Linked DNA regions of Homo sapiens. The protein of the gene in region 1 purifies or fractionates together with the protein of each later gene. This does not show direct contact. Each region holds a gene or a part of one and is shown on either strand. Other genes may lie near its edges.

Region 1 (7,656 bases):
TAAACTATTACAGTTAGTTGATGATTTCAAAGTTCTCCAAGAAGAATATTTTGTCTTCTCTGTCCTACCGAAATTAATAAACAGAAAAAATTATCCTGTTTGTACCACTGAAAACCCTAATGAGAAAGTCATGTCTCACTTAATTTTGCCTGTAGATATTTCTCCTTGGTCTATATTGAACTCATGGGGAAAGCAGAGGTCTCAAAAAAATGTTTCAATCTGATTCATTTATTCTCTCCAGCACATTTTGTCATTTCTTATTCACTTACAATAAAAAGCCTCCTAGACCTTTTATATACAATCTCTCTATTTCATTGTCTATTGCATTGTTAGAAACGCCCTTCCTACCTGAATAGTGTTTTTTAGAACAGTAGCTGGGCAAAGAAGGATGTTTTCCAAACCTGCCTGATAAGAATCACTTGCTCTGATTATCAAAAATAATGGTTCCCAGCCCTCAACCAGAATTCACTTAAATAGATCTGTGCATTCCAAAAACACTTTTGGTGCCTATTTGTTTCCGTTACTAGGAAAGCAACTGAGGAAACATGAACAAATAACACGAGGTTTCCCAACCTTAAGGAGCCTTGTCTAGAGAAAGGTGATCAACATGTTCAAAACCACCACATGTGCTGGAATGAAGGCACGGGCAAAATGCTTGATGCTCCCACCGGGCAAGGAGCCAACGGATGATGGGCAGGAACTGACTGGGCCAAGGCAGGGGAGGTAATTGCTGCTGCCGCTAACACATATTAAATGCTGACTCTAGTGACAGATACTAGGCGGAGTGCTTTACAGACGTGATCACACTTAATTTTCACAATTGCTATTATCTCACTAATTCAGATGTGGCAAGCCCTTGGTTAAATTAATATTTTTCCCAAGAACGAGCAGCTGGAATGGGGCTCAGAACTCTCGTTCTGCACAGAGGAGGGTACAAGCCCCACCGTCGTGCCATCAGCAAGTCTTTCTTGTCCCTTCTCTGGACTTCACTATCAACAGCTCTGCTGTCTACCGCGTGAGGAACTCAAGATCTGAAGGAAAAAGGAGAAACTTCTTTCTGCAGAACAGTGTGCCTCTCAGAGCCCTTTTCTGAATTTCAAGCCCAAATCCATCATGCTAAAGGATTCTTCTTCATTTCTGCAAGCTGGCTGTATAACTCCTAAGCCACTAACTAAAAGTGAAGTCGACTGCTGGCAGAAATGCAGTTTCAAAGGCCTCCTAATTATTTACCAAACACAATTGTATAGTCGACACACACAATTCTCACTGAAGCAAAGTGGAATGATGCCTATTCATAAACTTTCCTTAATTGTACTCACAAGCGGCTCCATGACATTAGAAAAGATAAGATAGAATGAATACTTTTTAGGAGACTAAATTAGAACATGATTACCTCATTATGTCCAGATCTTGAATCCTGGTCCCCAGAATTTTTTTCCAGAAAACACTTCACTTTCTCCACCTCTTCCCTGCACTGAAAAAAGGCCATTTTCTCCAGCTGGTTGCTGTTATAACACGTGTTGAATTCTTCCAGCCTCTTCACTTTTAACATCTTAGTAGTGAGTCCGATTAAGCTACTTTCTGGAGTGTGGTTTTCGTCTCCCTCTGTCTCCGATTTATAAATCAGGACACAATTATGACTCTTCAGTGCTTCTTTCTCTTGACTGCAAAGAAAGGAAACACAAAAAGTTCTCATCACGTATTCATGCATTTGACTTCTTGAGAAAATGACCAGTGAGAATTTGGAAGTCCCTTCTGTTTAAACTGGAGAGAGGATCCAAAATCAGGAAAAGAAATACTAACATTCATATTGAGTTTCCAACATTGGAACTTTAAAAGGAAAAAAAATTTTTTCACTTTAAAACTACAAAAGCAAACAGTAAGAAGCAATGTCAAGATTCACTGGTGATGAAATATGCTCCTTATTGCACAAAACAAGCCGTAGATCAAGTGGCCAGCTTGGATGTAAATTATAAAGTATCTTTGGGTTTAATTGGAACCGCAGGTTTTGCAGCCCCGTGGGAAGGGCTTATCACAGAAGGGGTCTCTCTGCTTCCCCTGGCCTCCCTCTGCAGAGGGATCGCTCCCGAATGAGTCCTTTTCCAGAACTCTTCTCTACCTATGCCTTAAAATGTGTGGTGTTTATTTGTGAAAAGAAATTTATTTCCTTACAGTCTTCTCACGTGGACAGCACTCCCAGATACCTTTCCTTGCATCTGCATTAACAGCTATGTACCGAGAAGTTCAGAGTCTTTTCACTCTCCTTAAAATACTTTCCTCGCAAATGAAGTAATGCAGCATACATAATTCGCTTTGATACTAGAGACATATACGCATGTCTATATGTACACATCACTTGATTGCATAGAGAGGCAGGGAGAGGGAGAGACATTTGAATTTGTGCTAGTTCCGCATGGCTGACAACTGAGGCCCCCTGGTGGAGATTTTCCGAAAAGCGCCTCTTCGAGCATTTTCTCCGCTTAAAAACCGTATTGTGATTCTCATCAGAAAACTTAATATTTTGTTTTGTCAGTTCCTATAGTAAAATGATACTCTTGAGTTCCAAAGTGTTTAAAATTCACTGCTCTAACAAATTATACTTATCCACATAAAGAGCTTACATTCAAACAAATAAAAATGCAAATATTAATACTATCAACCAGAGCTCTACAGATATATTACAGATCATTCTTAGCATTCTTTCAAATTGCCCTGAAAAAATTATTAAAATAAGGAAACAAATGCATGGCTATTTCTAAGGCAAACTACGACTAAAATACTATGGTTAATTGCAGATGAAACTCAAGTTGGATCAGGAAGCCACACAAAATTAATGTATTAAAACAAAAGCTTAGGATTAAGATACAATAATTTTGCAAAGAAATATTAAACATTAAGCTCTACCTGAAGTTTGGTACAATTTGTTATTGAAGGTAACTTAGAAAAAAGGGGAGGAGATTTGAGAGGTTATAACAATAAACAAAGATAATTACCATTGATAGGATCACATCGAAGAGCTTGAGCCACTCCAAGTCTAGAGCATACATTCCAGAAGATAAAGAGAAATTTTGCAGAATTCAAACTGACTATGAAAGTCTCTGGTAAAAGTTTTGACTCTCAGTCGTATAAATCTTCTGAAAAGACAAGTGTCCACTACGAGAGGAAGTATCTTCTCTCTCAAATGCCACTTTCAGCCCCTGTTTAAATTAATATGGCTCTTGATCTCACGTTGCTCAGCTGTTGCCTTCTTAGTCAGATGGGGAAGAATATTAATTTTAGACACCAGGCTTTTCAAGGCCAATGGCTCCATTTCAGAGGTCAGGTAAGGAGAGGATGAACCGGGAACACTGGATGAAATATCACCTTCACCTTTCCCTCGTATCATTGTGTCAATACTCTCGGATTTACAAAGCTAGATTTGTCCTCGGCAATCATCTGCCTGGACCTTCTGCCCCTTTCAGACTCAGGATTATTTAAGTGCTCATTAAATTTCCCCCAGTAGGGAAAATGCCAGGTGTGGCAACCCCACAGCCACCTCTGTTTGCCCATCTTACGCTTTGAGCATATCCAACTGCAATATAGAAGATCTTCTGAAAGCAGTTAGCAAGTTTGTTTTATTTTTCTCAGTTCTTAAAGATGTTTGCAAAGTCTCCAACCATTTCTAGCTCTAGGGAAAGGTCAAAGGCACAGGCATCCAGGAAACAGGAATAAATTTTTCATAAATTCTCCTTAAGCAACACTAGGACTTCATCCGTAGTTTTCTGCACAGACCAAGAAAGGGGAATTTCAACCCACCTGCCCGACTCTCACAGTAGTGCATCCCTAGATTCACTGAAGTGGCATAAAACTTTGATTGCCCAGAGGCTGGACTTTGCAGTCTTGAAAACCCTGCAATTTTTCAGGGCCTGGCCAATTGTCACCTCTTATTTGGAGCCTGTGTTAGCCCCTCTATGCCCCATTCTAACACCAGCCTCTGCTGCTCTTCTGCTTCTTTTAAAAAAAAAACCTTATTTTTAATTCAGATCGATGCATTCCATGTGAAATAAAAATACATATTTTTCCATTTTATGTAGTATTAATGAATTACAGCAAAATCTTTTTTAAAACACAAAACGCTTGTTATTTTTCAGATTGGAGAGCTTTGTTCTTCAGCAAAAGTAATGAAGTGGAACTATAAATTTGTGGAGATAAATTATCTGACAAAAGTATTATACAAAGACTAAGCTGGTTTGAGGTTACCAATTTTGTTAGTATAATTAAATTGTGTAGAAGTACTGATAAGGCAACAAATGCCCTGCCAGAGGCAAGATGTGTGTGGGCTGCTGCTGATCCAACCACATCCTCCACCCGGACCACCACCACGCAAAAGCAGACTTCCTATCTCGTTGGCTCCAGCAAACCAACCACAGGCTTGAGTGAGCCAGAGGCCAGGAGAATCTGCTCCTTAGCTTATTTTTTTGTAATAAACTTTTCCTTTTAGAGTAGTTTTACATCTACAGAAAAGGTGCAAAGGTAGTTCAGAGTTCCCCTTGCCCTGCACCCCGAATCCTCTGTTTTTAACATCTTACGTTGGTATGGTATACTTGTCACAATTAATGAACCATGGTGAACGTTATTATTAACTAAACTCAATACTTTATTGTTGCTGGGTTTTTTTTTTCCCCAAATGCCCCTTTTCTGTTCCAGAATCCCATGCAGGATTCCACAGTACATTTAGAATCAGTAGGATTTATGATAGATTGGGTATGGGGTATGAAAGAAAGATGGTAGACACCTTTGCATATTTTCTTCTGAGCACTTGAAAGACAGAGTGAACATTAACTGAGATGGAGACGGCTGTGGGAAGGGCAACTCTGGAGGGAAAGGTCAGGCATGAAGTCTTTGGCAAGTCCATTAAACGTTCAAGTTGAATAGGCTGTGGAGATAGAAACTGGAGTTCCGGGGAGGGGTGTAGGCTGGAGATAAGAATTTGGAAGGCATCCACATATAGACATTTCCATGCACAATATACATTCAATACATATTTGATTAATGACTAGATAGAATGATCTTTAATTGTGTCTACTTGCCCTAAAAAGCAAGTCAATTAAAATAATCCATGCTAAAAGTGACTGATTGTCTGGTTCTGCTGCATCACACTGTTCCCAGCTTCCGATGGCATACAGGACAAGCACACTGCTGGCACAACCCTTGACCACAAAAAAACAGGTTATACATGCATACTCATTCTGGTCTATCAGCCTAGCCTCAGGATCCTAAGTCCATACCCATAAAATGTTCTGCATGCTTAAAGATGCTCTTATACCCGGAAAAATTCATTAGTGAGGAATATGAGCAGGCCCAGGAACACTTTTCCAGTATTTCCATATTTTGGAGTTATACTTCTCTAAAAAATACCAACATCAGGAAAACAGCACCCTACAGAGCCATGGAAAAGAATCCCTTGATTTTTTTCAAGGGACATTTCCATTAGCTGAGTAAGAGACTGTGTTGTCAAAGGAGCCACATGAAGAAACATCGTCGACAGCTCTTGTCTACGGGTTGGCATTGAAACCCGGCTGGATTACACTAAGAGTTTTTGTTTCTACACAGCGTTCTGAATGTTTCCAGAACAAGACCTCTTGAATGTTTACACACAAAAGCGGAGCAACAGTACAAATACCCAAATGCAAATAAAAAGCTACTGCATCCCTGTTACCCACATTACAATAGAACTTCCTTACTTTCAAAAATCACCACTGAATACGACCCATAAAAACGAAGATTGATAAATTGCACTTCTTCAAAATTCAAAACGTTTGCCTTTGAAAAAACACTATTAGGAAAATGAAAAGACACTATTATGAAAATGAAAAGACCAGCTACAGATGTATAGAAAATACTGTGAAGTCACATATTTGACAAAGGACTGCATCTAGCATATACAACTTAATAATATATGACAAAACATTCCAGTTTTTTAAATGGACAAAAGATTAAAACAGACCTCACCAAAGAAGATATAAAAATGGTTAATAAGCACATGAAAAAAAATGCTCAAAATCAGTCATCAGGGAGATGCAAATTAAAACCACAAGGAAACATCATTTCACACCCACTAGGAGAGCTGTAATAATAATGAAAAAAATAAAAGATAGGTTGGGTGTGGTGGCTCACACCTGTAATCCTAGCACTTTGGGAGGCCAAGACAGGAGGATCACTTCAGTCCAGGAGTTTGAGACCAGCCTGGGCAACATAGCAAGACCCCATCTCTACCAAAAAAAAAAAAAAAAAGACAGAGAAAAGCAAGTGTTGACAAGGATGTGGAAAAACTGGAACCCTCACCAAATATGTTGATGGGAATATAAAATGATACAGGTGTCTTATAAAAGAGGTTGGCAATTTCTTAAAAAGTTATTTCCCATATGACCTAGAAATTCTTCTCCTAGGTATCTACCCAAGAGAAATGAAAACATATGAACACAGAAACCATGGCACATGAATGTTCACAGCAGCATTATTCACAATAGCCAAAAACTGAAAACAACCAAAATGTCCATCGGATGATTTGGAGACTGGGAAAAGATAATGTGGTATACACATACAAATGGAATACTACGTAATTAAAAGGAATGAAATACTGGTATCTACTACAATATGGATGAGCGAAAACACTGTGCTAATTGAAAAAAAAAAGCCAGAAACATAGAGCACAGATTGTATGATTCCATTTGTATAAAATGCTCAGAAAAGACAAATCTATAGACGTAGAAAGCAGACTGGTGGTTGCCGGGGGCTGGGTGCAGGAATGGGGGTTAATTGTAAACAGAATCTTACCCGATGATGTGTGGTAGTGATGACTGTACAACTCATTCAGTTTCTTAAAACAATGCAGAATTGTGCACTTGAGATGGGTGAATTTTATAATATGTAAATTATACTTCAATAGAGTCATTAAGAAAAAGAAAACCCAATAATATGATTAACAAAAAGTAGCTTGTTAAAAGGAGAGGAAAAAACTGAACACTTTGTGGTCATCTGTCCCCAGTGACCAAGGCTGGGATCCAGGGAAACATAAATTATATTCCACACTTGCCAGGTCACCTAGGGCCAAAGAAAAGGAATGGTGAGCAGGAGACAGTTAAGAGTCTCACGCTTTTCTTCTCCTGGCATGAATATCATGCAATATAAGATTTTGTAATTAATAGAAAAATTAATAGTAATTTTAAAAGTAATTTCTATCTTTTATTTTCTGCTTGGAGATAGGATACTTTGAGCAAGAAAGATAATGATGTTATGGAATATCCAGATTTCTTTACAGGAAATTTTGATATTAGACCACTAAAACTTCTAAGTGACAGCAATTAGCTAAGTATTACGAAATACAAAAATGAAAATAAAACAGGTTTTAAAAATTAGATAAAAATATGGATTGGATCATTTAAAAATTAATATTTTTCAGAAATATTACATAAAGTTTCAGTTTATTACCTCTACAGTGGCTACACAAATTGTTCCTTTAATTATATCCCTTAAACTTTCTAAGGGATATTTGCAAGCATAGTACAATGAATACCTATACATCCTTCACCCATATTCACCAAATGTTAGCATTTTCCATGTTTGCCCTCTCTCTCTCTTTTGCGAGTAAGATGCATATCTCATGAAACTTTACCC
Region 2 (7,191 bases), on another chromosome or scaffold:
TGTCCTTTGCAGTGACATGGATGAAGCTGGAAACCATCATTCTCAGCAAACTATCGCAAGGACAAAAAACCAAACACTGCATGTTCTCACTCATAGGTGAGAATTGAGCAATGAGAACTCATGGACACAGGAAGGGGAACTTCACACACCAGGGCCTGTTTTGGGGTGGGAGGAGGGGGGAGGGATAGCATGAGGAGATATACCTAATGTTAAATGACAAGTTAATGGGTGCAGCACACCAACATGGCACATGTATACATATGTAACAAACCTGCACGTTGTGCACATGTACCCTAAAACTTAAAGTATAATAAAAAGAAAAAAAAAAAAAGAAAATCTTCTTTTCTATAACTACAGGAGTTCTTATCCTGGCTGCACAAGAGTAACTTGCAGAGCTTCAAACTGTGGGATGCCTGTGACCCACCTGCTTGAGACTGATTAAGTGGTCTAGAGTGAGGCACAGTCCCCATTTTTGGAGCTCCCCAGACGAGTCAAACGTGCTGCCAGGGTTGAAGCTCACTCTGCCTAGCAAAGGATGGTGCGTAACATTTGCTCTGAGATAAGACTGGGCATGGTGGTTCACACCTGTAACCCCAGGACTTTGGGAGGCCCAGGTGAGAGGATCATCTGAGCTGAGGAGTTTGAGACCAGCCTGGGCAACATAGTGAGACTTGTCACTACTAAGGGAAGAAAAAAAAATTAGTCCAGCATGGTGGCACAGGTCCCAGCTACTCGGTAGGCTGAGGCAGGAGGATCACTTAAGCTTGGGAAATAGAGGCTGCAGTGAGCCATGATCACACCACTGTACTCCAGCCTGGGTAAAAGAGCAAGACCCTGTCTCAAAAAAAAAAAAGTTAGAAATAAAAATAAATAGAAAACATTTGCTCTGAGACTGATGACAAATAAAAATTATTTTTAATCTATTCACCTAACTTCATGTAACCACTACTGGGTGTCTACACAGCTGAACTAAAGCACAACTTCTGATGACAGAAAACAAGATTTTCCAGGTAAAACAGTTTTGCTTTGATTTTTGGTGAACCCCAAAGCTTTGTTTTTTGCCAAGCCATTAAAAAAAAAAAAAAAAAAAAAAGGAAAGGGCCAGGTGGGGTGTGGCTCACGCCAGTAATCCCAGCACTTTGGGAGGCAGAGGCTGCCAGATGGCCTGAGCCCAGGAGCAGTAGTTCCAGACCTGCCTGAGCAACATGGGGAAAGTGTCTCTACAAAAAAATACAGAAGGCCGGGTGCAGTGGCTCACACCTATAATCCCAGCACTTTGGGAGGCCAAGGCAGGTGGATTGCTTCAGCCCTGGAGTTCGAGACCAGCCTGGACAACATGGCGAAACCCCGTCTCTACTAAAAACACAAAAATCAGCCGGGTGTGGTGGCGTACACCTGAAATCCCAGCTACTCAGGAGGCTGAGGCAAGAGAATCACTTGAACCTGGGAGGTGGAGGCTGCAGTGAGCGAAGATCGCGCCACTGCACTGCAGCCTGGACGACATAGAGAGACTCCGTCTCAAAAAAAAAAAAAAAAAAAAGTTGGCTGGGGCGGTGGCTCAGGCCTGTAAGAGGCAGAAGCGGGTGGGTCACTTGAGGTCAGGAATTCGAGACCAGCCTGACCAACAATGGTGAAACCCAGTCTCTACTAAAAAAATTAAAAATTAGCCGGGTGTGTTGGCACACACCTGTAATCCCAGCTACTCCGGAGGCTGAGGCAGGAGAATGGCTTGAACTGGGAGGCAGAGGTTGCAGTGAGCCAGGATCGCCCCATTGCACTCCAGCCTGGACAACAAGAGTGAAACTCCGTCTGAAACTTTAAAAAATGGACTAACCTCCTAATACAACACAAACACAAGCACCATACAACTGTAAATGATTTACGATCATTTACAATGAGTAAGATATTACTCCTACCCTTGAAAAGCTCGTAGGAGGTTTAAGTTGAATTTAGGTGAACGTGAAAATTTTCTGACCACTGAATTTGAAGATGAAGATACACTATGTACTTTTCGGACAAAATGTGATGACTTTAAGATTTCTTGTCACTAAATTGGGGATGGGGGCTTACTAACTTTAAATTATTTAAGTACTTCAGACAAAAACTAATAACTTCATATCTCTCACAAAGCAAACATTCTGTCTATACACAGAATTTACTAGAACCTGTGAGGAAACTGTAATCATTATCATTTCCGTTTTACAGAATAAGGCAATCAGAACAACTGACTTTCCTAACATCACAGACCTAGATCAGAATTCAGAACTCTGTGTCCAATCTTAGGTCCCTTCCAATATTACAACCTGCAAACTAATCAAACCGGCATCTGTTTTTACATTTCTTTAAAAAAAGCAAAGCAATTAAAAAAAGGACCCAATTCTGCTCAGAGACGAATATGTATTTCTTAATTTGGATCTAACTTTATAACATGGTGATCAACCCAAGTACACTGTACTCGACTCCGAAAATCCTGCTCGTCACTTTATATTTTGAGTCCTACTAGAGACTTTGATGAATTGCACTCAAGAAGACGCGGCCCCCACTACGCAGTGGCTACGGGAGATGGCTTCCAGGGCAACTGTTCTCCAAGTTCATTTCTGAGCGCCGGGTAACCATGGCCAGTAATTAATCCAATTCTAAGCGTTGCTATCAATTCTACGCGTTGCTATCAATTCTACTGATTTCCCTGATCGACCAGAGTCTTCCCATTGCAGGAGCTTTTGTCACAACTTAGGCTTTACCTGTACAACCGTCATCTCCACAGAGGAGCGACAAGCCTTTATGCAATATGGACACCAAGAAAACCGCCTTCGAAGACACGCAAGGCAAAATTCTTGCCAGTGTCCGGAAATACCCGTCTCTGGAACCCAAAAGTCAAACTAAAATTAAAAGTTCGGCTTAGCAACACCGCGAAAGGCGATGTAGGCGTCCACCTGGAGTTTAGCTGCCTCAACCTCCGCCCCGGCCTGCCGGGTCTCTGGGGACCCCGTCTTCCTCCAGCGGGCTCTGGGATGCGGCCCGCTCACCTCTGACCCTGGCCGGATCTCGCGCGTCTAAGCCACCGCGTTGCCAGTCGCTGGCCACCCACCTACCGCCACCGCCCACCTGTGCGGGTCGCCTCGCCGCTAGGCCCCAAGACGGCGCCGCCTGCTCGGCAGCAAAGCCCACCCGCCCCGTCGGCGGCTCAGTGCTGCACCCCCACCAACAGCCAGTTCCGGCGGCCGCACTTCCGATTGGCAGGCTGGGCCGAGGGGCGGGGAAGGCGGGCGGAAGGGGAGGAGCCGGGAGGGCGGGGCCGCTGCCAGGAGCCTGGAGCGCTGCGTTCCGCGCAGGACGCCGGTGAGGCCCGCAGAGACTTGCGTCCGGGCGGGAGGCGGGGCCCAGGATCTCTGCTCAATCCTGGAGTCCGAGTCCGCAAAGTGGGAGGGAGGGTGTAGATGTGAATTTGGGGAAAAACGACCCTGTTGAATTTCTAGAGTGGAAGAAACATAGAACTAGCTTTTCTCTTTGCTTAGCACATACAAATGGAAAAACAGCGACACCGTTACCTACATTTACTAGTCCAATGCGTACAACCTTCTGTAGTATATCAACTGCCAATGAGTTTATGTTTTTAAAAAAACCACCCCAGAGAAGGGTTCTAAAAATTCAGAAACCGCATTACTAGCACACATTGTAAGGTCTGTTTTGTTTTGTTTGTTCGTTTGTTTTTCAGACAGAGTCTCGCTCTGTCGCCCAGGCTGGAGTGGAGTGGAGAAATCTCAGCTAACTGCAACCTTTGCCTCCTGGGTTCAAGCGATTCTCCCTGCCTCAGTCTCCGGAGTAGCTGGGATTATAGGCGTGCACCACCACACCCGGCTAATTTTTGTATTTTTAGTAGAGACTGTTTCACTATGTTGGGCAGGCTGCTCTTGAACTCCTCATCTCAAGTGATCCACCCGCCTTGGCCTCCCAAAGTGCTGGGATTACAGGCGTGAGCCATCATGCACGGCCTGGGGTGAATCTTTTTAATGAGCATTTATTATTTGCCGTTCACAATGCCAAGGGTCATAATGAATGAAAGTGTCTTGGAATTAGAGTTAGTGGTTGCACACATTATAAGTGTATTAAAGTACACTCCAAAATAAAATCCGAACACATTAAGTGGTTACTCCCATTCCTCCCTCTCTCAGCCCCTGGCAAATGCCAATCAGCTTTCAAACTGTGGTACCTATTACGGATATTTCATATAAATGGAATGTGTGACCTTTTGGTCTGTCTTCGTAGCATAATCTTTTGCAGGTTCACCTTGTACACCTTGTTGCATGTATCGGTACTTCATGTCTCTTTATGGCTACTATTCCACTGTACCTAGATGCCACAGTTTTACCTGTCCATCCACTGATGGACATTTGGGTTGTTTCCACTTTCGGGCTATTGTGAATAGCAATGATATGAACATTTGTATACAAGTATTTGTTCGAGTCCCTGTTTTCAATTCTTTTGGGTATAAACATAGTGGAACTTCTGGGTCTTATAGTAATTCTACGTGAAAATATTTGAGGAACCCATAAACAAATGTTTCTACAGCAGCTGAACCATTCATTTTACATACCAAGAGCATTGTCGGGGGATTCCAATTTCTCCACATCCTCACTAACACCATAATTTTCTATTCCTTTGATAGTAACCATCCCAAAGGGTATAAAGTGGTATTTTATTGTGGGTTTGATTTGCATTCCCTAATGGCTAGTTATCTTGAGCATCTTTTCATGCCCTTGTTAGCCATTTGTATATCTTCTTTGGAGAACTCTCTATTCAGGTATTTCCCCATTTTTAAATTGAGTTGTTTGTGTTTTTGTTGTTAGTTATGTGTAGTCATATATTCTGGATATTAGACCCTTATGAGATATATCATTGGTGGATACTTTCTCCCATTCTGTAGGTTGTCTTTTCACTTTCTTTGTAATATCCTTCAGTGTACAAACCTTTTTAATTTTGATGAAATCTAATTTATCTATTTTGTTACTTGTGCTTTTGGTGTCATCACCAAGAATCCATTGTGCAAGCACACTAGCTTTCATGTCTCTTCTTATGAGTAACTAATTCTATTGGATAAGGGCCCCACCTTTATGATCTTCTTAAACCTTAATTACCTCCTTATAGATCTTATCTCCAATACAGTGACATTGGGGTTTGGGGTTACATATATGAATTTTGTGGAGATATAATTTGGTCAACAGACTTCTGTACCCCTGCAATTCATGTCCTTATTGAATACAAAATACATTCATACCACTTCAACAGTCTCAAAAGCATCAACTCTAAAATCTGAAGTCCGAAGTCTCTTCTAAATATCACCTAAAACAGATAAGGGTGAGACTTGAGATATGATTCATCCTGATGCAAATTTTCTCCCCAGCTATGAAACTGTAAAACCAGGGAAGTTGTTTGCTTCCAAAATACAATGGCAGAACAGGCATAGAATAGGCATTCCAAACAAACAAACAAACAAAAATAGGAGCAAGAAAGGAAGGAAATAAAAGAAATAGGCAAAAAGGAAGGGATGACAGGTCCCAAGCAAGTCCAAAAATCTAGCAAGGCAAATTCTAGTAGATTTTAAGGCTCAAGAATAATCCATTTTGATTCAGTGCCCTGCCTTCCAGACCTACAAGGGTGGTGGCCCTGCCTTCTGGACCCTAGGTGGATGCTATACCTCTCCCCACACTCTGCCAGGCATGCTCTTCCAGGCAGAGTCTCATCCCAAAAGTTTTGCTAGGTAATGGCCTTGATAACATCTGAATTGCTTTGAGGTCATTCTCCCCTTTTCTTAAAGAATAGCACAAGTTTGGCCAGGTGCGGTGGCTCACGCCTGTACTCCCAACACTTTGGGAGGCCAAGGTGGGCAGATCACGAGGTCAGGAGTTTGAGACCAGCCTGGACAACATAGTGAAACCCCATCTCTACTAAATATACAAAAATTAGCCTGGCCTGGTGGTGCATGCCTATAATCTCAGCTACTTGGGAGGCTGAGGAAGGAGAATCACTTGAACCTGGGAGGTGAAAGTTGCAGTGAGCTGAGATCCCGCCATTGCACTCTAGCCTGGGCAATGGAGTGAGAATCTGTCTCAAAAAAAAAAAAAAAAAGGAATAGTACAAAGTTAGCAGCTGGATAGCTCTATTGTCCTGTCCTGTAGAATCTAGGACATGTAAAAGCCTTCTGTCATTTTTGTCTTGTCTGCATCCCCTTCAGTTGAAACAGGCAGTGTTTCTGCTCATATAATCTCATCATTTATTTATCAAATGATAGTCTAACCATACCTTTGGTGTTTTCTTTAGAATGTACTTTCTCATTTTCTGCAACATGACAGGCAGATAATTTTCCAAATATTTGAGTCTTGGTTCCTTTTTGCTTAATAATTTCTTCTTTCATTCATCTCTTCTTGCATTTTACTATAAGCATTCAGGAAGATCCAGGTCGCACTTTCAGCATTTTGCTTAAAAATCTCAGTTAAATATTCAATTTTATCATTCACAAATTCTGTCTGCCAGAAAACACTAGAAAACAAGTCAGCCAAGTTATTTGCTACTTTATAACAAGGACTGCCTTTCTTCTGTCTTCCAGTGACCCATTCTTCATTTCCATCTGAGACCTCACAAGAATGGCCTTTAACAAACATATATTTACCAAAATTGTGTTCATGATTATGTTTTCTCTAAGAAGATGGAGGCTTTCTCTTCAACTGTATTTCTGAGTTCTTACCAGAATTGCCTTTAACATCCATATTTCTAGCATGGAAATCTAGGCTTTTTCTAGCATGCACCTCAGAATTCTTTCAGCCTCTACCCATTACCTAGTTCCAAAACCACTTTCACATGTTTAGGTTTTATTAAAGCAACATGCAACTTCTTGGTAGCAAAATCTATCTTAGTTTGCTCAAGCCGCCATAACAAAATACCATAAACTGAATGGCCTAAGCGACAGAAATTTATTTCTCATAGTTCTAGAGGCTGTGCAGTCCAAGATCAAGGTGCTTGCCAATTTGGTTTCTGGTGAGGGCTCTTTTACTGGCGAGTAGATAGCCACCTTCTTTCTGCATTCTCATATGATAAAGGAAGCGGGAGAAGGAAAGGGAAACAGACAGAGAAACACACAGAGAAAGATATCTGGTCGTTTTTGTTGTTTTTTTTTTTTATAAAGATACTAATCTA

Evidence for each region.
Region 2: the proteins of MYLK4 (region 1) and SUPT20H purify together in Homo sapiens (affinity purification with mass spectrometry; 2 studies listed by BioGRID and IntAct, with this or other methods). This does not show direct contact.

What each region holds. Positions count from the first base shown.
Region 1 is NC_000006.12:2,747,743-2,755,398, forward strand, and holds the start of MYLK4 (myosin light chain kinase family member 4), read right to left. Parts: upstream 3,181-7,656; 5' UTR 2,994-3,180; intron 1,665-2,993; coding exon of another isoform or gene 1,553-1,664; coding exon 1,394-1,552; intron 1-1,393.
Region 2 is NC_000013.11:37,056,454-37,063,644, forward strand, and holds the start of SUPT20H (transcription factor SPT20 homolog), read right to left. Parts: upstream 3,236-7,191; 5' UTR 3,106-3,235; exon of another isoform or gene 2,742-3,105; intron 1-2,741. UniProt on the Homo sapiens protein: Required for MAP kinase p38 (MAPK11, MAPK12, MAPK13 and/or MAPK14) activation during gastrulation.